Homo sapiens: one gene and its partners. The protein of the gene in region 1 interacts with the protein of each later gene in a pairwise test. Each region holds a gene or a part of one and is shown in the gene's direction. Other genes may lie near its edges. The genes, in order: SNRPB2, MCM6, HNRNPUL1 and GABPB2.

Region 1 (4,994 bases):
AATATATAACTGTATAAATAAGTGAATGGTGGGGGGGGCAACTCAATGCAGTATCATTTTATGAAGACTTTTGTCATTACTTTATTACCAATAACTTGTTTCTTTTCTAATTTGGACAGAATTGAAGAGATCCCTATATGCCCTGTTTTCTCAGTTTGGTCATGTGGTGGACATTGTGGCTTTAAAGACCATGAAGATGAGGGGGCAGGCCTTTGTCATATTTAAGGAACTGGGCTCATCCACAAATGCCTTGAGACAGCTACAAGGATTTCCATTTTATGGTAAACCAATGGTAAGCCAATTCCATTATTTCACTTTAATCAAGAAATTAATGATATTGATGGGACAGTAGATTTGTAAATATGCTTGAAACTGTGGCTATTGCTTTCTGCTTTTAATTATGTGTGTTTGGGTTTATGTATTTTTATAGAAAAACAGTAGTGGTAGAGTTTAATTTATGACAGTTCAGATGGGCAAAAACAAAATACATTGAGATGTAGAATATTTTAAAAAATAATGGCAGTCTAGGCAATAGTCTTATCTCAAAAAGTTAGAAATTAATAATATCCTGGAAGACTTGAAAAGAAACCTGTTTGTAAACTTGTAAAACATTACGAAACAAAAGTCATGAGTCAAAGAGGAAATTCAGTCTGAAGTTTTAGAATATGTCGTAGTGAAATACTATGTGTCAGAAGCTGCACAGTCTAGATGAAACAGTGATCTAAGGAAAAATGATAGGTTTAAACTCATAGGTTTTAGGAATAACAATGGAAATGAAATGGTTATGAATGGAGAGTTTTAAACTCAGGAATGACATAATGAGATTCACATCTAGCTGCTGGATGAAGGTCGCATTGTGGGAGGGACAGAAAGGAAGTGGGAAACTCAATTAGGAGGCCCTTGATGTAAGTCAGAGATGGTAGAGGATCAGATAAGGGTGACCACAGAGTGTGAAGCAAGGGGTTTCTATGTATGAGTGAATACACCATATCTTAGGTGTGGATTCCAAACTGCTTTTTTTCTGCGATTAGAATGTGATGTGAAGGAGTGTTGGACAGAGAGCCAAGGGCCAGGGTTTAGAGGAGCTGGGTCTTCATTCTGGTTGTACTATTAACTGGCTCTGTGCCCGTGGTTAGTTTTACCACCTCCGGTAAACAAATTGGTTGTTCTTTGGTCTAATGCAGGCATCAGCAAAAACTGTAAAGAAGTACATAATACCTTAGGCTTTGTAAGCCATATATGGTTTCTGTTACCTGTTCTTTTATGTACTTACGTTTTTTAACAACCCTTTAACATTATCTAAGAAAATTCATGTAGGCCATGCTAATGCAGGCCTGTGGGCAGGGTTTGGCTCACAGACTGTGGTACAGACCGCTGATCTAACCCATTCATTTTGCAGATGAAGAAACAGGCATAGAAAGTTTAATTGTTCATCTAGGTTATAGTAATATAACCAGTGGCAGCCTCAGGAGTTGACAACTAATCTAACAGCTAGTATTGTGATTTTTTTTCTGCATTACAGGTCAGCAAACTTTCCGTAAAGGACCAGATAGTAAATATGTTACACTTTGCAAGCCAGATAATCTGTGTTGCAACTACTACTCAACTCTGCTTTTATAGCAGGAAGAGCAGTCCCAGATGAGAACAGGCAGTGTTGGCTACAGACAGTAGTTTGAGGACCCCTGTTTTATACCATGATGCTTAATTCAAGCCTCAGCACCTTTTTTTCTGTTATTAGAGCAAGTTCTTCTCATCCTCTATCCAGCTCTCCTTTTCCCATCACTTCCCAGCTGACTGGACACCATTTTTGTGGAAAAGCCTATCCCAGGAAACTGTGGGATGGTACCTATGTAATGTAATTTTTAGTATATTGGTGTTTCCTGAAACCAGGCGGTCTCTCATAGTAGTATAAAGAAACACCATAATTGAGATCTCAGTTGGCAGCAGCATAGGGCCTGGGTTTTAGCTTACATCTAAAATTATATTAACTTGAAAGTACAGTTTCTTCCCATAGAGGGTTTAGAGCTATTTTGCTGAGTTGAGATGACAAGTTTGCATGTGTCTGTTACTCAGATACAGGAAAGGAAATTGTTTGCTGTGTTGGGCACCAGCCTCACCTTGCCAACTAATTATTTTTTAAAATTAGTGGGAAAGTGTATTAGATTGATTATTATATTGAAGCATTTTGGGAGGTCTATTCTTTTCCTACAGAAAGGTAACAGATACTGCCAAATCTCCATCTTAGAAGAGGGGAAATAGAGTTCTTTGGGCTGTCTTGTTTATGTCTTACTGTGGTTGTAGTTGCTCTTCTGTTTTAACTCCAACATACCGATCAGAAATGAACAAAATTTGCTATAACTTGGAACTCAGAACAGAATTACTCTCTCTGATTCAAGGGCATTTAGTTAATGCCAAAAGTACCTTAATAAAGTAGAACTGTCTTCCTAAGGGCTTCGTCATGAAAACTTTGGCATAAGTGTAAATCTTGCCCTTCTCTAAGTTGTGGTTAGACTTTTATCTCTAATAGGTATTTAGCCTAGACTAGCGTTTCTCAACCCTGTCACTTTGGACATTTTGAAATGAGTGAGTCTTTGTTGCAGGGGGCTGTCTTGTTCATTACCCCGTGTTTAACAGCATCCCTGGCCTCTACCCACAGGATGCCAGTAGCATAACAACGAGTAATGTCTCCAGCTAGTGCTAGCTGTGCTCTGACAGACAAAATCACCTCTGGTTGAGAACCACTGGTTTAAATGAGCCAGCTAAGAGCTATTGCTGAGATCAGGTGTTTTCACAGGTGACTAGGTCATAAGGACAGACAAATCAGGTCACCGAAGATCTATTCAGGTCAGGCACGAGGTTGCAGAGCCAAGGGAGTTGTGAGGGAACCCTTAGGACCAAGTCAGAAGTTAGTCTAACCCTTCAGCCTGTCTCCTTTTGGTTAGATGATGATGGCAAGACTAGCAGAGTTGCATGCAGGGATAAGCACACTTAGAGCCACTGTGGTACGGCAGCCCAGACCAGCCAGAAAGAGCCTGGGATTCTGAGGTGTGGGTTTAGGCCTACTCCCTCCCCTCTTGTTTCCCCAGTGTAGTCATCTCTAGCTGAAGTAAAGGAAGAGGAAGAACTGATCTTGGTTTTGACAAATTCTTTGCTTTGTAATCCACACTACTTTAAAATGTTTCTTGTTCTCTTCAGATCAAGATCAAATTCTTGTTATACGAGGCAATAAAATTTTGCATACCTATTGTATACAAAGTAATTTGTACAGATTACTACAAAGTAGTAATTTGTAGGATTATTGCATTTTGATCAGAGAGGCAATAATTCTTTCAGCTCCAAGGAGGAAGAGTTTGCTTGAAATGGAGGTTGGAGATTGCAGATAGTCCTACCTAGATAACGGTTTAACTTATGGCAGAAATATTCAGACAGTTCATTGGCGCTGAGTATAGTTATGTGATAATGCTTTAAGCCAGGGCTACTCAAAATGTGGTCCCCATGCCAATAACATTACCATCTTCTTTGTGCTTGTTACAAGTGCAGAATCCCAGGTTTGCCCAGACCTACTACATCAGAGCTTTTACCTACTTTCCAGGCATTTGGAATGCAAACTATAATTGATCAAATACTATCTTGGACAAGTTTTTGAACCCTTCCCTGTTGTAACTGTTGCCTCTTGGTGCCAGCATGAAAGGCATATGCAAGTGGTCCAGTCACATTATCTGTGATTCCATTCTTTTGTTTCCTTTTAAAACATTTTAAAATTTAGTAAGTTGATTCCACTGTTAAAGTCATTTCATGTAAAGGTGATAGATTCAAAGGAAAGTCATTCCCAGTCTTCTGTACTTTTAACTATTGGAAGTAACATTCCATATGACACATTCCACAGCTGCGACACATGTCAATGCTTCTATTGAGAGTCACTGGTAAGGGGAAGGCAACTCTCCAATGCATTTTTGTTGTTGTTGTTTTTGTTCTGTGTGTGTCTGTTTTTTTAAACACACGTGCTTATAGCAGCTTTATTCCTAATCGCCAAAAACTGTAAACAAACCAAGTATCCTTCATTGAATGATGTAAATCAAATTGGTACATCAATACGATGAAATACTACTCGCTGTTAAAAGCAACGGCATAGATGAATCTCAAAGACATTATGCCAAGTAAAGGAAGGCAGCCTCCAGGTTATATCATGTATGATCCTATCTATGTGACATTCTGGAAAGGGCAGCAGGGACAGAGAACAGATGAGTGTTTGGAAGAGGAGGGGTGGGGTAACAAAGGGGAAGCATGAGGGGATTTTTAGGTGATAGAACTGCCCTGTGTCCTGATTGTGGTGGTAGATACATTAATCTTTACAAATGTTACAACTCAGAGCTGTACATCCAAAAAGTTACGATGCAAAAAAGTTTTATTTAAATCCTCACATTTATGATGTTTAGAATTCTAAAAAATGAAAAAAAATTCAAATAAACTCATTAAAAATGGTTTAAAAGAAATTTTCCATCTAGTTTTCTGCCAGAAAAGTTGTTCTGTGGGGACTCTGCCAAACCAGCCCTAGTGTTCTGTGGGCCTATTCTATCTGTAAAACAGGATTAGTCTAGAATGGCGATTTTCTTTATTTTTCACCAGCTCCCTCAAATTGCATCCCTAGGTGCTCCCTCTGTGACTGTGGGGTGAGGGTAGGTTTGGAGAGGAAAGGGCATTTGGCCTCCAGTGGGCTCTGGAGCCACAGTTCTATGTCAAGCTGAGCAGTTTTGCTTTTGTTTGTTTTATATGTTGTTTGTTGAATACCTCTGGATTAGAATAGCTGATCTTGAGCCAGATCCTCAGGCACTGAGGAGATTTGAACAGTTCAGGATTCCAAAGCCCGCTGGTGGAGCCCACTCATTTGTTCCTTTAACACTTCAATGCAGTTTTCTCTATTCTTTGATTAAATGGAGAGAAGCCGTGGTACAGATATTTCAAAGTCCTGTGTTTCTCACATGAAAATATATGTT
Region 2 (4,994 bases), on another chromosome or scaffold:
AAAATTACTTTTTCATAATTGATAATCACAATAATTATAAAACAAGTACTTATAAAATTGATGCTGTAAAATACCAGGAGGAAAAAATAGTGGTTTGCATTCAGATTTTGTAGAAGGTTGACTTTTGTAGGAGTTATACCCACTTATCCAGAAAGTTTAGTGTTGGAGAAATGTATTTTCCTATGGAGATGGGATTAGATGTAAAGGGAGTGAAGCAAATTTTTAGGATTATCACATTTTAGGGCGCCTTTTAGGGAAATTTGGGAGAAAATTGATCAAGGGAGAAAATATGAAATTCTAGAAATTCCTGAATCTCTGGAAATTTTTGTTGGTTTAAATGCATAATTTTCAAACACCCCTTTGGCAGTTATTTTAAGAATAAATTTACTGGATAAAATTGAAGTGATATTTTGAAAAGTTAAACTACTGAAATTATAAAATTACCAAATTACTTCACATAAAATGGGTTTGTAAAGGAAGTGTTTCTGAACTTTGAGTACAAAATTTTTTCTCATGATAGGATTATTATGTAACACATGCTTTTTTTTTTAGAAATTGCGGGTAAGCAAAAAAGTATTTGCATATAAAACAAAAACAGGATCATTCTGTTTTTGTTTTTTTTTTTTTCTGAGACAGAGTCTTGCTCTGTCACCCAGGCCAGAGTGCAGTGGCACGATCTTGGCTCACTGCACCCTCCACCTCCCGGGTTCAAACAATTCTCCTGCCTCGGCTCCCCGAGTAGCTGGGATTACAGGCGCCCGCCACCACGACTGGCTAGTTTTTGTATTTTTAGTAGAGGTGGGGTTTCGCCATGTTGGCCAGGATGGTCTTGATCTCTTGACCTCATGATCCGCCCACCTTGGTCTCCCAAAGTGCTGGGATTACAGGTGTGAGTCACTGCGCCCAGCCCGTTCTGTTTTATAATTTTAATTTTCATTTTTTTGGCATCCTTTAGTTCATTTATATATTTTGTTCTGGATACATATACGTCATATAATTTAGGATTGGGCACGTTGACTAAATTATTCTTATAGGAGAGTCCAAAGAATACCTTGTCTCTTGAATTTTTTTTTTAAACATAAATTATCTTTGAATACCCTCTCACTAAAATGGAAAGATTCTTAGTTAAGAGATGAATGTTTACTAATGGGACATTTGTCTTTAAACAGGATTCGAGAGCTCACCTCATCCAGAATTGGTTTGCTCACTCGCATCAGTGGGCAGGTGGTGCGGACTCACCCAGTTCACCCAGAGCTTGTGAGCGGAACTTTTCTGTGCTTGGACTGTCAGACAGTGATCAGGGATGTAGAACAGCAGTTCAAATACACACAGCCAAACATCTGCCGAAATCCAGTTTGTGCCAACAGGAGGAGATTCTTACTGGATACAAATAAATCAAGATTTGTTGATTTTCAAAAGGTATTTATTTAACATCTGTTTAGATCAGAGTCCATCTATGATAATAATTCACTTCTAGGCCCTTGCAATAGCTTATTTAGATAATGTTCAACTCAATTTTTATGTAAGTTAAGCATCATCAAAATGACTACAAAGTTAAGCCCAAAACTGTTCATGTAAATTATAATTGTTAGTATATACATTTGTTTTAACTTTCAGTAACTTGGAAGTTCCTTAAGACTGACAAGATGTATTTGTCAAAGAATAAATGGTAACTAGGTGGTGGTGGTTGTCATTATGAACTGGAGTTAAGAAAACTTAAAGAAATAGCAACTTGTTAGTGTAAGATTTCCATTTGCTGCATAGAAAGGAAAGCATGAATAGGACAGGCTAGCTTGGAAGCAATGAGGATTATCATGATTGAAGTAAAGGAGCCAAATTGGAGATCATCTGAGAGATGATTTGATGTGAGACCTGGAGGTACTTGGATCCCTAAATCTTAGGCTGAGGAGTTTGAGCCTATCTTAATAAGCAGTGGGAATATAGTGGGAAGGTAGTTTGTGTGTGTGGGTGTGTGTTTGTTTTGTTTTGTTTTTTGTTTTTTTTTGAGACAGTCTCTCTCTGTCACCCAGGCTGGAGTGCAGTGGCGCGATCTCGGCTCACTGCAAGCTCCGCCTCCTGGGTTCACGCCATTCTCCTGCCTCAGCCTCCCGAGTAGCTGGGACTACAGGTGCCCACCACCACACCCGGCTAATTTTTTGTATTTTTAGTAGAGACAGGGTTTCATCGTGTTAAACCAGGATGGTCTCGATCTCCTGACTTCGTGATCCGCCTGCCTCTGCCTCCCAAAGTGCTGGGATACAGGCGTGAGCCACTGCACCCAGCCTGTGTGTTTTTTTTTAAAAGCAAACTGAATAAGTCCGTGATGGGTTTAACAGAGGGTAATAGGCAATTTCAGTTACCTGGGCAAGAGGTGATGGATGGCAGTAGTAAGAATGAAGGGGACCCTCAGATTTCAGCAGGACTTAATTTTATGGGACATACAAAATGGAAAGAAAAGCTGAAGCAGCTCAAGTATGGAATAATTATTATCAGATGAATTTAATATTATTTATATTGCTCTGATAATCATTCTCCTTATTTGGCTTTCTTACATTAACCTGGTAGCTTATAAGATGCACATATTTTACCAACAGCTTTGGGTAGGAGATGTCTTATCTTATAAAGTATGAATCTAGATTGGGTCTTAGTTTGGGGGGGGGAACACAACTGTATAAAGGACACTCTTGACAAGACATTTGAAGATGGACTAGATAATAGAAGATATGTAATTTTATGAAATTAAATATTGTTTAATTATCTTGGTTGTGATAATGATATTGTAACAGGATTGTCTTTATTCTTAGAGATGAATGCTAAAATATTTAGGTATGAAGTTTCTTGATGTTCACAACTGTGTTCAAATACATAGTAAAAAAACATGTATCTGTAAATAATGTTAGCAGTTGTGTTGAAGTGGAGGGTATAAAAGGTGTATTTGAAATTTTCTGTAAAATTATCTTAAAGCTTAGGAGAAGATGGAGCATGGAACAGATATTTGGAGTCATTTTGAACAAAGAAAAAAATTATTTTTTAATGAGTAAAAGTGAAGTTTTTTTTTTCTCTGCTGCTTGAATCATCATGGAGTTTTTAAATAGATGTAATCTCTTGCCAAATTGAACTATTTGACTAAAAGGAGTTTTAGAGTAGATAATTTTTAGGATAAATGTTGGTACATGTGAAAAGTCTGCTAATGGGTCAGATAGTTTAGAATACGTCCGTATTTGTGGTATTTAATTTAGATTATATGGCATCTGAAAGGTATTGCTTCTCATTCTTGGTTGGTTGTTTGTCTGTATTACAGGTTCGTATTCAAGAGACCCAAGCTGAGCTTCCTCGAGGGAGTATCCCCCGCAGTTTAGAAGTAATTTTAAGGGCTGAAGCTGTGGAATCAGCTCAAGCTGGTGACAAGTGTGACTTTACAGGGACACTGATTGTTGTGCCTGACGTCTCCAAGCTTAGCACACCAGGTCAGTAATCTGTGGCTCAAATTTAACAAATTCTCAGTTACCTAAACTGCACAGTATCTAGCTTCCCACATCTTCATTGTCTTCTTTTTGGCTACCAATCAGAAGCTGAGGAACGAAGTGTGATGAGAATAAAAACAAATTGGTTTTGCCACAAATGGTGCTATTCTGAAAGTATTCAAGGCTTAAGTGAAGTCTTTGGATTTATAGCTTTCATTTATTTGAGCAATTTTGATGTTCAGCACCTTTAATATTTAAGTTGTGAAACAACCTATCATTCTGTTTCAGGAGCACGTGCAGAAACTAATTCCCGTGTCAGTGGTGTTGATGGATATGAGACAGAAGGCATTCGAGGACTCCGGGCCCTTGGTGTTAGGGACCTTTCTTATAGGCTGGTCTTTCTTGCCTGCTGTGTTGCGCCAACCAACCCAAGGGTCAGTCGTTTTGGGGGTTTTTGTTTGTTTTTGAAACAGTCTCTCTCTGTCACCCAGGCTGGAGTGCAATGGCAAAGTCATGGCTCACTGTAGCCTCCACTTTCTGGGCTCAAGTGATCCTACCATCTCAACCTCCTGAGTAGCTGGGATTATAGGTGTGAATCACTGCACCCAGCTAATTAAAAAAACTTTTTTAGAGATGAGGTCTTGCTCTGTTGGCCAGGCAGGCCAACAGTGAGTCTTAGTAGAGTGACAGCTTAAGAAACACCTACCCTGAGCTGCCACGAAATGATAGGATTCTGAAACATCTGGGCTGTCTCATCAATGTTGAGAGCACGGGATGGGGTTAAGATTTGATGAGTTTTAAAACCAAATCTTTTGACGTATGCCTTTCTGATCTTGAAAAAAAGTCTTATTTGATGTCTTACATAAAAGCTCAATGCTTTTAAGTGCAGTGGTACAAATTATCCACGCTGTTTTTTGTTTTAAAGTTTCATAGTTCCTCTGTTATTCTTCTGGAGGAAATACAAATAAAAAGATTTAGTAATCTGGGAAGTAAACTTCTGAGAATGATGAACCCCTGGCAGTATCATTCAGTTAACTTGATTCTGTGTCATAAATGGGAGTTTGGAAAATAGTTCAGTATTGGAAAAAGGGAGTGAACATAATATTCTCTTATTTTATTTGCATCTTTATGTCAGTGATTAACATTCTGCTATCGCTTATCTCTTGAGCATTCAGGTAGCTTTTTTTCTATTTAACTCACTGGACAAATGACATACCCTTAAGTGTCTTTGTTAACTGAGGGCTTACTAGTTTGGGGAGTTGTTTTTTTTTAAACCTTTACAGTCAATAAATTGTGAGGTTGACTTCCCATGCTATGTTGTGTTTGTAATGAAGTTTCTTCTCCTTTATGCTCTTTTGACTGCTTCTATACTAATGATTCTTCCTTTGTTCTCTACCATTAGTTTGGGGGGAAAGAGCTCAGAGATGAGGAACAGACAGCTGAGAGCATTAAGAACCAAATGACTGTGAAAGAATGGGAGAAAGTGTTTGAGATGAGTCAAGATAAAAATCTATACCACAATCTTTGTAC
Region 3 (4,994 bases), on another chromosome or scaffold:
AGGCCTCAGGGCAGCTTTCTAGTAGGACTGGGAAATGGGGGGACTGGAAAGGTTAAGGAGTAAGTAGAAGGGATTCTGGCGTAAGAGTTTGTGGAGTTTTTCTGAAAAGAGGGCACCCTGGGACTTGGGGCTAAGGGGATAAGGAGAGAAATGAGGTAACAGAAGAGACAGGATTTGGGGTTGGAATTGGATACTTGTTCATAAGAGAATTTCCCGGAGGGAGGAGTGTGGATTTGGGGTAGGCAGTGGCCTAGAGATTATCGAGGACCCAGGTGCTGGAAAGAGGACTTCCCATTGCAGAGACTTGTGAAGAAAGGAGTGGGCCTGTGTGTGTGTCTAGAGCAGGAGGGATCGTGGCAGGAATGCCTAGCAAGAAAGGGTAGTGGGTTAGTAGTGACCTGGTGGTCTGGGCAGAGAGTCATCTCTGAGAGGAAAGCGAATTAGGTGCTTTGGAGCGTAGACTCTAGACTAAGACAGACTTCGTTTCAAATCTGGCTTAAAGATATTGGCAAGTCACTTCACCTCTGTGGGCCTGGTTTCCTTAATGTGTAAAATGGGGTTAATCAACAAATAGTGTGTTCACAGCCCCTCCAACCCCTGAGGGGTGTTATGAATGAGATCACATGTGAAGGGCTTATCACTGGGCCTGCCTTTTATGAGAAGAGGGATGTTTTAGAGAATGGAGAAGGACCCTAGAATTATAGCTTCTCCAGGAGGGGCTGCCTCTGTGAACACAGGAGAGAGATGCTGGGGAAAAGAGGCTTTGTGGGAAGAGGAGCATTGTGCTTGGAGCCTGGAAGCAGCAGAATAGTTTGAAAGGGCCCCATATTCCAATTAAGGAGATAATGCTATTTCTTCCTCTCTCCCTTACTTGCTACAACAAAGTCCTTTGAGCCCCCTTCATGCCTCCCTTAAGCCCTCCTTCAACCTTGGTAAACAGACCGGTAGCAAACCACATGACCTGTGACTTTCCTCCCTTTGGGCTGCACCTGGTTTGTGCCCAGATGTATTTATCCTCTGAGAAGGAATCCGATCAGTTAGCAAGTGGCAGAATAGTCTCTCCTTCCCTTTGGTTCTGGCTCACGGCTCCTGGCATAGCCACTGGTAGGGCCCTTGGGGCCCTAACTGAGAGCTAGCCCCTGGGGAGGAGAGCCTGTATGCTGCCCATCCTAGCTTTCTAAAGTTCTCTCTGGGTTTGGCTGCAAGGTTCTTGAGGGAATTTCTGGTTTTAGTTCCACCTCTGAGCTTTCACACGTGTTATCCCAACCCCAGTAACATTCTCCATTCTCATCACTGAGTCATTACCTGTGTATCCTTTGAATCAAGGCTTATCTGTTATTTTCCAGGTCCCTTTCTTCATTCCTGGTACTACTTTGTAGCCTTCAACACAATCATATTAAATTTTTGTGTGTCTTTAAGATTTGTCTGTCTCACTAAACTGAAGGCTTCAGTGGGGCAAGCTTGTCTTCAGCTGTATCCCAGGCTCTGGAGTATAGTATGCATGCCATGAATAGTTAATATTATTATTCTTACCACTCTTAGTTGAGCTCCTGGACCTGCAGATGCCTTCTGGATGCTTTGGTCCAGGGTTCTTCATGAACCGCCCCTCTAATTGGCCATTTTTAATTTTGTTTTAAGATGCCATGGACAATATTACCAGGCAGAACCAATTCTACGATACCCAAGTCATCAAACAAGAAAACGAGTCAGGCTACGAGAGGAGACCACTGGAAATGGAGCAGCAGCAGGCCTATCGTCCAGGTAGGAAAATACACATGGTTCATCTCTTTGGATGGAAACAATCTACATGGAGCCTTTACCCCCTGCTTAGAGCGGGTCTTCCCAGAGAAACTGTGCATCTTTTTTCTTGGGCAGTTCATCTAAACATTGTCACTCTGGCAAGAATTGTTTAAAGGAAAGATCTCAGTCCTATTTCCAAGTGTTGGGAGAGGGGAGGTTCCATGGTATCTGTAAAAAAGTGATGTTAGTATCAGCCGGGTGTGGTGGCTCCCTCCTGTAATCCCAGCACTTTGGGAGGCCGAGGCAGGTGGATCACCTGAGGTCTGGAGTTCGAGACCAGCCTGGCCAATATGGTGAAACCCGTCTCTACTAAAAATACAAAAATTAGCCAGGCATGGTGGCAGGCACCTGTAATCCCAGCTACTTGGGAGGCTGAGGCAGGAGAATCACTTGAACCCAGGAGGCGGAGGTTGCAGTGAGCCGAGATCGCGTCATTGCACTTCACTCAGTCTGGGCAACAAGAGTGAAACTGCATCTCAAAAAAAAAAAGATGTTAGTATAAGCACCCTGGAGAGTTGAGACCCCTAGACTAATACTTGAATCTTATTTAGAATCTTAGAATGGGGGAGCCAGAAAGAGCCTTCTAAGTCTAATCTGGTATTTCTCATGTTCTGAAGATTATTGTTTCAGGGGATATTATTAGGGGATTCTCAGAAAAGGGTTCCTTAGCCAAATGTGTCTGGAAACTGTAGCATGTGCTATATCGTCTCTTGGAAATTCACTGTGCTTGTTAGAACATTAAAGGCTCTGAGAAGTCCAGAATTTAAAAAAAAAAAAAGAAAGTGTGTGTCAGGCCTCAGGCCAGGTGCGCTGGCTCATACCTATAATTCCAACACTTTGGGAGGCCAAGGTAGTAGGATCATTTGAGACCAGGAGTTCCAGACCAGACTGGGCAACATAGTGAGACCCCTTCTCTACAAAAAATTTAAAAATTAGCCAGGCATGGCTATGACTGACTACATGCACACACCTATAGTTAAAGCTACTCAGGAGACAAAGGTAGGAGGATCACTTGAGCCCAGGAGTTTGAGGCTGCTGTGAGCTATGATTACACTACTACACTCCAGCCTGGGTGACAGTGCAAGACCCTGTCACGAAAAAAAAAAAAAAAAAAAAAAACCTAAAATTAAAAGTAGGTTAGAACACAGTGGCTCATGCTTGTAATCCTAGCGCTTTAGGAGGCCAAGTCAGGAGGATCACTTGAGCCTAGGAATCCAAGACTAGCCTGGCAACATAGTGAGACCCCTGTTGTCTTTAGAAAAAATTAAAAATTGCCTGAGCATGGTGACATGCTTGTAGTCCCAGCTACTCAGAAGACTGAGTCAGGAGGATCACTTGAGCCCAGGAGTTCAAGGCTGCAGTAAGCTATGATCGTGCACGGCACTGCAGCCTGGGCGACAGGAAGACCTTGCCTTAAAAATAAAAACAGGCCGAGTGCGATGGCTGTTACATGCCTGTAATCCCAACACTTTGGGAGGCTGAGGTGGGAGGATTGCTTGAGTCCAGGAGTTCAAGACCAGCCTGGGCAACATAACCCTGTCTCTATAAAAAATAAAAATATTACCTGAGCATGGTTGCACAATCCTATAGCCCCAGCTACTCTTTTTTTTTTTTTGAGACGAAGTCTCGCTCTTGTTCCCCAGGCTGGAGGGCGATGGCGCGATCTCAGCTCACTGCAACCTCCGCCTCTCGGGTTCAAGCGATTCTCCTGCCTCAGCCTCCCAAGTAGCTGAGATTTCAGGCGCCTGCCACCACACCTGGCTAATTTTTGTATTTTCAGTAGTGACGGGGTTTTACCATGTTGGCCAGGCTGGTCTCAAACTCTTGACCTCAGGTGATCCGCCCGCCTCAGCCTCCCAAAGTTCTGGGGTTACAGGCGTGAGCCACTGAACCCGGCCAAGTCCCACCTACTCTGGACCCTGAGGTGGGAGGATCACTTGAGCTAGGAAGTTGAGGCTCCATGAGCCATGATGGCAGCACTGCATTCCAGCCTGGGCAACAGTAAGCCTCTGTCTCCAAAAAAATTTTTTTTTTAATTAAATTTAAAAACCTTGTGTCTTCTTGGGCTGGTGTTGCTGAAAATATTTTTTTTAATAAAAAAATAGACAAAAAACCTTGTGTTGTATCGTTTAAACTTAGGATTTCCCAATCATGTTAAGTATATGTCTTTACAGAACAAAGTTCCCCATGATGCCAACTCTCCCTTCCCTTTTTTTTTTTTTTTTTTTTGAGATGGAGTCTCGCTCTGTTGCCCAGGCTGGAGTACAATGGTGTGATCTTGGCTCACTGCAACCTCTGCCTCCCAGGTTCAAGTGATTCTCCTGCCTCAGCCTCCTAAGTAGTTGGGACTACGGGCGTGCCACCACACCCAGCTAATTTTTTGTGTGTTTTTAGTAGATGTGGGGTTTCACCATGTTGGCCAGGATGGTCTCAATCTCCTGACCTCATGATCTGCCTGCCTCGGCCTCCCAGAGTGCTGGGATTACAGGTGTAAGCCACTGCGCCTGGCCTCTCCTCCCCATTTTATAGATTGAGGAGTTGGCTTGTCCGATGGCAGAGCTGGGGCTACAACCTAGCATACTTGCTCCCAGGCTAGTCCTCTTGGTTAATAAGCAGCATTCCTTATCATTTGTGCCTTACTATTTGGAAAGCAGGGTCCCACTATTGAGAACTGATGGAGCCCGGACTGACCCCCAGTTTTGTGCTGCTTTTACTGTGTTGTGGCCTCCCAGTGCCTTTTCTTAGTGTATCTGGTTGATTTTGTCTAACGCCATTCTGGTTCATCCACAAAGTTAAATCCCCAGACATTTCTTGTGGGTGGCTCAGAACTTTACTGAATGTAGGTTAAACCGCAGATTTGTGTCAGGCTCTGTGAGACTTGTAGGATCATTCAGCCACAGGAGAATATTTTCTGTGCCGTTATCCACAGACATTCATCAGGAGCCCTGTGTGAGCCCAACCTATTGCTGGGAACCAGGGAAGCTCTCTTCAGGATGGCTGAGCACCATCCCAGCCCTAGAGAACCAGGAGACTTTTCTGAGAGATGTGGTCCACATGCCGAAGCTGGGGAGTGATCCAAAATGGTCTGGGGTTGAATGCAGAAATGAGTAGATGTGAATGAGCTTCAGCATCAGGGATTAATGCTGTGGGAGAAATGAAGGTAGCCTACATCTGTGGTTTGCTCTTGGTTAGGC
Region 4 (4,994 bases), on another chromosome or scaffold:
TGGGCTTAAGCTATCCTCCCGCCTTAGCCTCCTGAATAGCTAGGACCACAGGTATGGGCCACCACACCCTGCTAATTTTTTTATTTTTGTATTTTTGTAGAGACAGAGTCCCTCTGTGTTGTCCCGGCTGGGATCAAATTCCTGGCTTCAACTGATCCTCCTGCTTTGGCTTCCCAAAGCACTGGGATTTATTTTATTCATCTCCAAAATCCTAGAAGGCAAGTGAGACAGATTTTGTTTCCTCAGTTTATGTATAGGGAAAGTGGAGGTACAGCCAGCAAGGGAGAACATGTTAGTTGTCTGTAGTCAAGGAGTCAGAAGTGCCTAGACTGTTTTCTGATGTATCAGGCTTCATCTCTTGTCTGGTTGATGGGCCACCAGGCAGGTATTGACCACCTGCCAGAACCAGCATGGACAAGATACTGGGAGAATGGCATATAGTTCCCCTCAAAATGCTGTGTTTTTTGTTTGTTTTTTGTTGTTTTGTTTTGTTTTATTTTAAGTGAAAGCAAGTTGCTTGAGAAAGTAAAGGAAGGCCGGCGCGGTGGCTCATCCCCGTAATCCCAGCACTTTGGGAGGCTGAGGCGGGCAGATCACAAGGTCAGGAGTTCAAGACCAGCCTGGCCAACATGGTGAAACCCCGTCTCTAATAAAAATACAAAAATTAGCTGGGCATGGTGGCGTGCATCTGTAGTCCCAGCTACTTGGGAGGCTGAGGCAGGAGAATCACTTGTACCCAGGAGGCAGAGTTTGCAGTGAGCCAAGATCGCGCCACTGTACTCCAGCCTGGTGACAGAGCAAGTCTCTGGCTAAAAAAGAAAGTAAAGAAAAAAAGAATAGCTACTCCATGGGCAGTATTATTATGGTTATTTCTTTTTTTTTTTTTTTTTTTGAGAGTCTTGCTCTGTCGCCCAGGCTGGACTGCAGTGGCGCTATCTCGGCTCGCTGCAAGCTCCGCTTCCTAGTTCATGCCATTCTCCTGCCTCAGCCTCCTGAGTAGCTGGAATTACAGTCACCTGCCACGGCGCCCGGCTAATTTTTTGTATTTTTAGTAGAGACGGGGTTTCACCATGTTAGCCAAGATGGTCTCGATCTCCTGACCTCGTGATTCTCCCGCCTCAGCCTCCCAAAGTGCTAGGATTACAGGCGTGAGCCACCGCGCCCGGCTGGTTATTTCTTGATTGTATGCTAAACATGCTTCCGCTTTTTTTTTTTTTTTTTCCAGACGGAGTCTCGCTCTGTCGCCCAGGCTGGAGTGCAGTGGCGTGATCACGGCTCACTGCAAGCTCCACTTCCTGGGTTCACGCCATTATCCTGCCTCAGCCTCTCGAATAGCTGGGACTGCAGGCCCCCGCCACCATGCCCAGCTAATTTTTTTTTTTTTTTGTATTTTTAGTAGAGACGGGGTTTCACCACGTTAGCCAGGATGGTCTCGATCTCCTGACCTCATGAGCCGCCCTCCTCAGCCTCCCAAAGTGCTGGGATTACAGGCGTGAGCCACCGCACCCAGCAGCCTCCTCTTTTTAGACCATATAGGGTAACTTCCTGACATTGCCATGGCATTTGTAAGCTGCCATGGCATGGCACTGGTGGGAGTGTAGCAGAGAGAACAACCAGAGGTCACTCTTGTCCTCTTGTCGCCATCTTGCTTTTGGTGGGTTTTAGCCAGCTTCTTTACTATGGCCTGTTTTATCAGCAAAGTCTTTATGATCTGTATCTCGTGCTGACCTCCTATCTCATCCTGTAACTAAGAATGCCTTAACTGACTGGGCACAGTGGCTCACACCACTTTGGGAGGCCGAGGTGGGTGGATCACTTGAGGTCAGGAGTTCAAGACCAGCCTGGCCAACATGGTGAAACCCTGTCTCTACTAAAAATACAAAAATAAGCCAGGCAGTAGTGGCACACGCCTGTAATTCCAGCTACTCGGGAGGGTGAGGCAGGAGAATTGCTTGAGCATTAGAGGCAGAGGTTGTGGCGAGCCGAGATCGTGCCACCGCACTCCAGTCTGGGCGACAGAGTGAGACAGTCTCAAAAAACAAAACAAGGGCCAGGCGCAGTGGCTCATGCCTGTAATCCCAGCTCTTTGGGAGGCTGAGGCGGGCAGAGGTCAGGAGATCAAGACCATCCTGGCTAACACGGTGAAACTCCATCTGTACTAAAAATACAAAAAATTGGCCGGGCACGGTGGCTCATGCCTGTAATCCCAGCACTTTGGGAGGCCCAGGAGGGCAGATCACGAGGTCAGGAGATCGAGACCATCCTGGCTAACATGGTGAAACCCCATCTCTACTAAAAATACAAAAAATTAGCCGGGCATGGTGGCGGGCGCCTGTAGTCCCAGCTACTCGGGAGGCCGAGGCAGGAGAATGGCGTGAACCCAAGAGGCGGAGCTTGCAGTGAGCCGAGATTGTGCCACTGCACTCTAGCCTGGGCGACAGAGCGAGACTTTGTCTCAAAAAAAAAAAAAAAAAAAAAAAAAAATTTAGCCAGGTGGGAGACTGGGACAGGAGAATCGCTACAACCTGGGAGGCGGAAGTTGCAGCGAGCTGAGACTGCACCACTGGACTCCAGCCTAGGCAACAGAGCGAGACTTCATCTCAAAAAAACCCCCCCCAAAAAAACCCAAAAAAACACAAAACAAAACAAAAAAAGAATGCCTTAATGGGAATGCAGCCCAGTAGGTCTCAGCCTTATTTCACCCAACTCCTATGCAAGATGGAGTTGCTCTGGTTCAAACACCTCTGACATTTCTCCCATCCCTTTTATTAGAGAACCCTTAATCCTAGGGGTTACAAAGAAATAAAGATCCATCTTCTGTAACTTTTTCAGGGTGAATAGGGGCGATGATATTCCTGCCTGACTCTTAGGGTCTCTTGTATTCAGGGTTCAGAGAGGAGCTCAGTCAGAAAGCATCAGTATGGTGAGAGCTATTCATAACTCCAACAAAAGGTGATATCTGGAAGATTAAAAGGTGTTCAGTTTAAGAAAACATTCAGTAAGCTTATCCTGCATTCCTACACAAAGAGTACAACAGCAATATACTCCTCAACAGTAAAGCAAAATAAGCAAAACTATCCCAAGTAAATTAAATAAGAAGGTTTTCCATGAACTGGGCAACTGTTGGAACCAAGCTGATTTGGGGTTACTAGCTGATTCCAGTATGTGCCCAGAATTAGAATATTGATCCAGATTTTTACATTACCCATTCCTTTTGTTTCTTGTGAGCAGCAGCCAGAGATCACTGGTTGGTTCACAGGAATAAGCAGAGTTAATCTAAGTTGCAGAAAAAAACTTAAAAACAACTGATGAGACTAGAATTTTTATTTTTTTTATTTTTTGAGACAGAGTCTTATTCAGTCACCTAGGCTGGAGTGCAGTGGCACAATCTTGGTTCACTGCAAGCTCTGCCTCCTGGGTTCAAGCAATTCTCCTGCATCAGCCTCCGGAGTAGCTGGGATTACAGGCATATGCCACCACGTCCGGCTAATTTTTGTATTTTTAGTAGAAACGGGCTTTCACCATGTTGGCCAGGCTGGTCTCGAACACCTGACCTCAGGTGATCCACCCGCCTCAGCCTCCCAAAGTGCTGGGATTACAGGTGTGAGCCACTGTGCCTTGCCAGTCTCCCATTTTTACTAAAGGCAAATCATGGTAAAATAGATTGGCTTTATTAAACTTGGTCTGATTTTTTTTTTTTTTTTTGAGATGGAGTCTCACTCTGTCGCCCAGGCTGGAGTGCAGTGGCGCAATCTCGGCTCACTGCAAGCTCCACCTCCTGGGTTCATGCCATTCTCCTGCCTCAGCCTCCCGAGTAGCTGGGACTACAGGTGCCTGCCACCACACCCGGCTAATTTTTTGTATTTTTAGTAGAGACGGGGTTTCACTGTGTTAGCCAGGATGGTCTCAATCTCCTGACCTCGTGATCCGCCCTCCTGGGCCTCCCAAAGTGCTGGGATTACACTTGGTCTGATTATTTGTATAAAGTGCAGCAAGAATAATGATTTTTCACATAGGCTTTTTAAATTGGCTTTGAAAGAACTTTGTTCCGTAAAAGGAATCTCACATAAGACTTACAAAGCCAATTAAAGCCCGTTGGGAAAACTGGCCTCATACCTTGTCTAAAGTCCCTGTACAGGGTTCCTGATCTGTGGTAAGTAAAGAGTGTCACTTTCTGACTTTCTGACAGGCCCAGGAGCCCCACATTATCCTGGGACCTCAGGAGGGGAGGAATTTATCCAACTCATAGGTTTTTTTTTTTTTTTTTTTGAGATGGAGTCTCACTCTCTCACCAGGCTGGAGTGCAGTGGCGCAATCTCGGCTCACTGCAGCCTCTACCTCCCGGATTCAAGTGATTCTTCTGCCTCAGCCTCCTGAGTAGCTGGGACTACAGGCATGCAACACCACGCCCAGCTAATTTTTGTATTTTTAGTAGACACAGGGTTTCACCATGTTGGCCAGAATGGTCTTGTTCTCTTGACCTTGTGATCCGCCGCGCCCGGCCACTCATAGGTATTTGAGGGTATAAACCCATGGCTGGGCTCAGCTTTAAAAAAAAAAGAGAGGCCAGGCGCAGTGGCTCACGCCTGTAATCCCAGCACTTTGGGAAACCGAGGCAGGTGGATCACAAGGTCAGGAGTTCAAGACCAGCCTGACCAACATGGTGAAACCCTGTCTCTACTAAAAATACAAAAATTAGCCGGGCATGGTGGCACGTGCCACCTAATCCTAGCTATTCAGAAGGCTGAGACAGGAGAATCGCTTGAACCCAGGAGGCTGAGGGTGCAGTGAGCCAAGATCACACCATTGCACTCCAGCCTGGGCAACAGAGCAAGACTCAGTCTCAAAAAATAATAATTTTCTTTAGAATAATAAAAATAAAGGCCGGGCACGGTGGCTCACGCCTGTAATCCCAGCACTTTGGGAGGCTGAGGCAGGTGGATCCCCTGAAGTCAGGAGTTCAAGCCTCGCCTGACCAACATGGTGAAATCCTG

The links.
Region 2: the proteins of SNRPB2 (region 1) and MCM6 interact in binary tests that used the Homo sapiens proteins (3 or more experiments, as listed by UniProt).
Region 3: the proteins of SNRPB2 (region 1) and HNRNPUL1 interact in a two-hybrid assay, tested with the Homo sapiens proteins (one large-scale study listed by BioGRID and IntAct).
Region 4: the proteins of SNRPB2 (region 1) and GABPB2 interact in binary tests that used the Homo sapiens proteins (3 or more experiments, as listed by UniProt).

The regions. Positions count from the first base shown.
Region 1 is NC_000020.11:16,732,045-16,737,038, forward strand, and holds part of SNRPB2 (U2 small nuclear ribonucleoprotein B''), read left to right. Parts: intron 1-119; coding exon 120-292; intron 293-4,994. UniProt on the Homo sapiens protein: Involved in pre-mRNA splicing as component of the spliceosome. Associated with sn-RNP U2, where it contributes to the binding of stem loop IV of U2 snRNA.
Region 2 is NC_000002.12:135,865,036-135,870,029, reverse strand, and holds part of MCM6 (DNA replication licensing factor MCM6), read left to right. Parts: intron 1-1,169; coding exon 1,170-1,419; intron 1,420-3,301; coding exon 3,302-3,467; intron 3,468-3,752; coding exon 3,753-3,898; intron 3,899-4,866; coding exon 4,867-4,994. UniProt on the Homo sapiens protein: Acts as a component of the MCM2-7 complex (MCM complex) which is the replicative helicase essential for 'once per cell cycle' DNA replication initiation and elongation in eukaryotic cells.
Region 3 is NC_000019.10:41,266,585-41,271,578, forward strand, and holds part of HNRNPUL1 (heterogeneous nuclear ribonucleoprotein U-like protein 1), read left to right. Parts: intron 1-1,638; coding exon 1,639-1,761; intron 1,762-4,994.
Region 4 is NC_000001.11:151,073,107-151,078,100, forward strand, and holds part of GABPB2 (GA-binding protein subunit beta-2), read left to right. Parts: exon of another isoform or gene 1-51; intron 52-4,994. UniProt on the Homo sapiens protein: May function as transcription factor capable of interacting with purine rich repeats (GA repeats).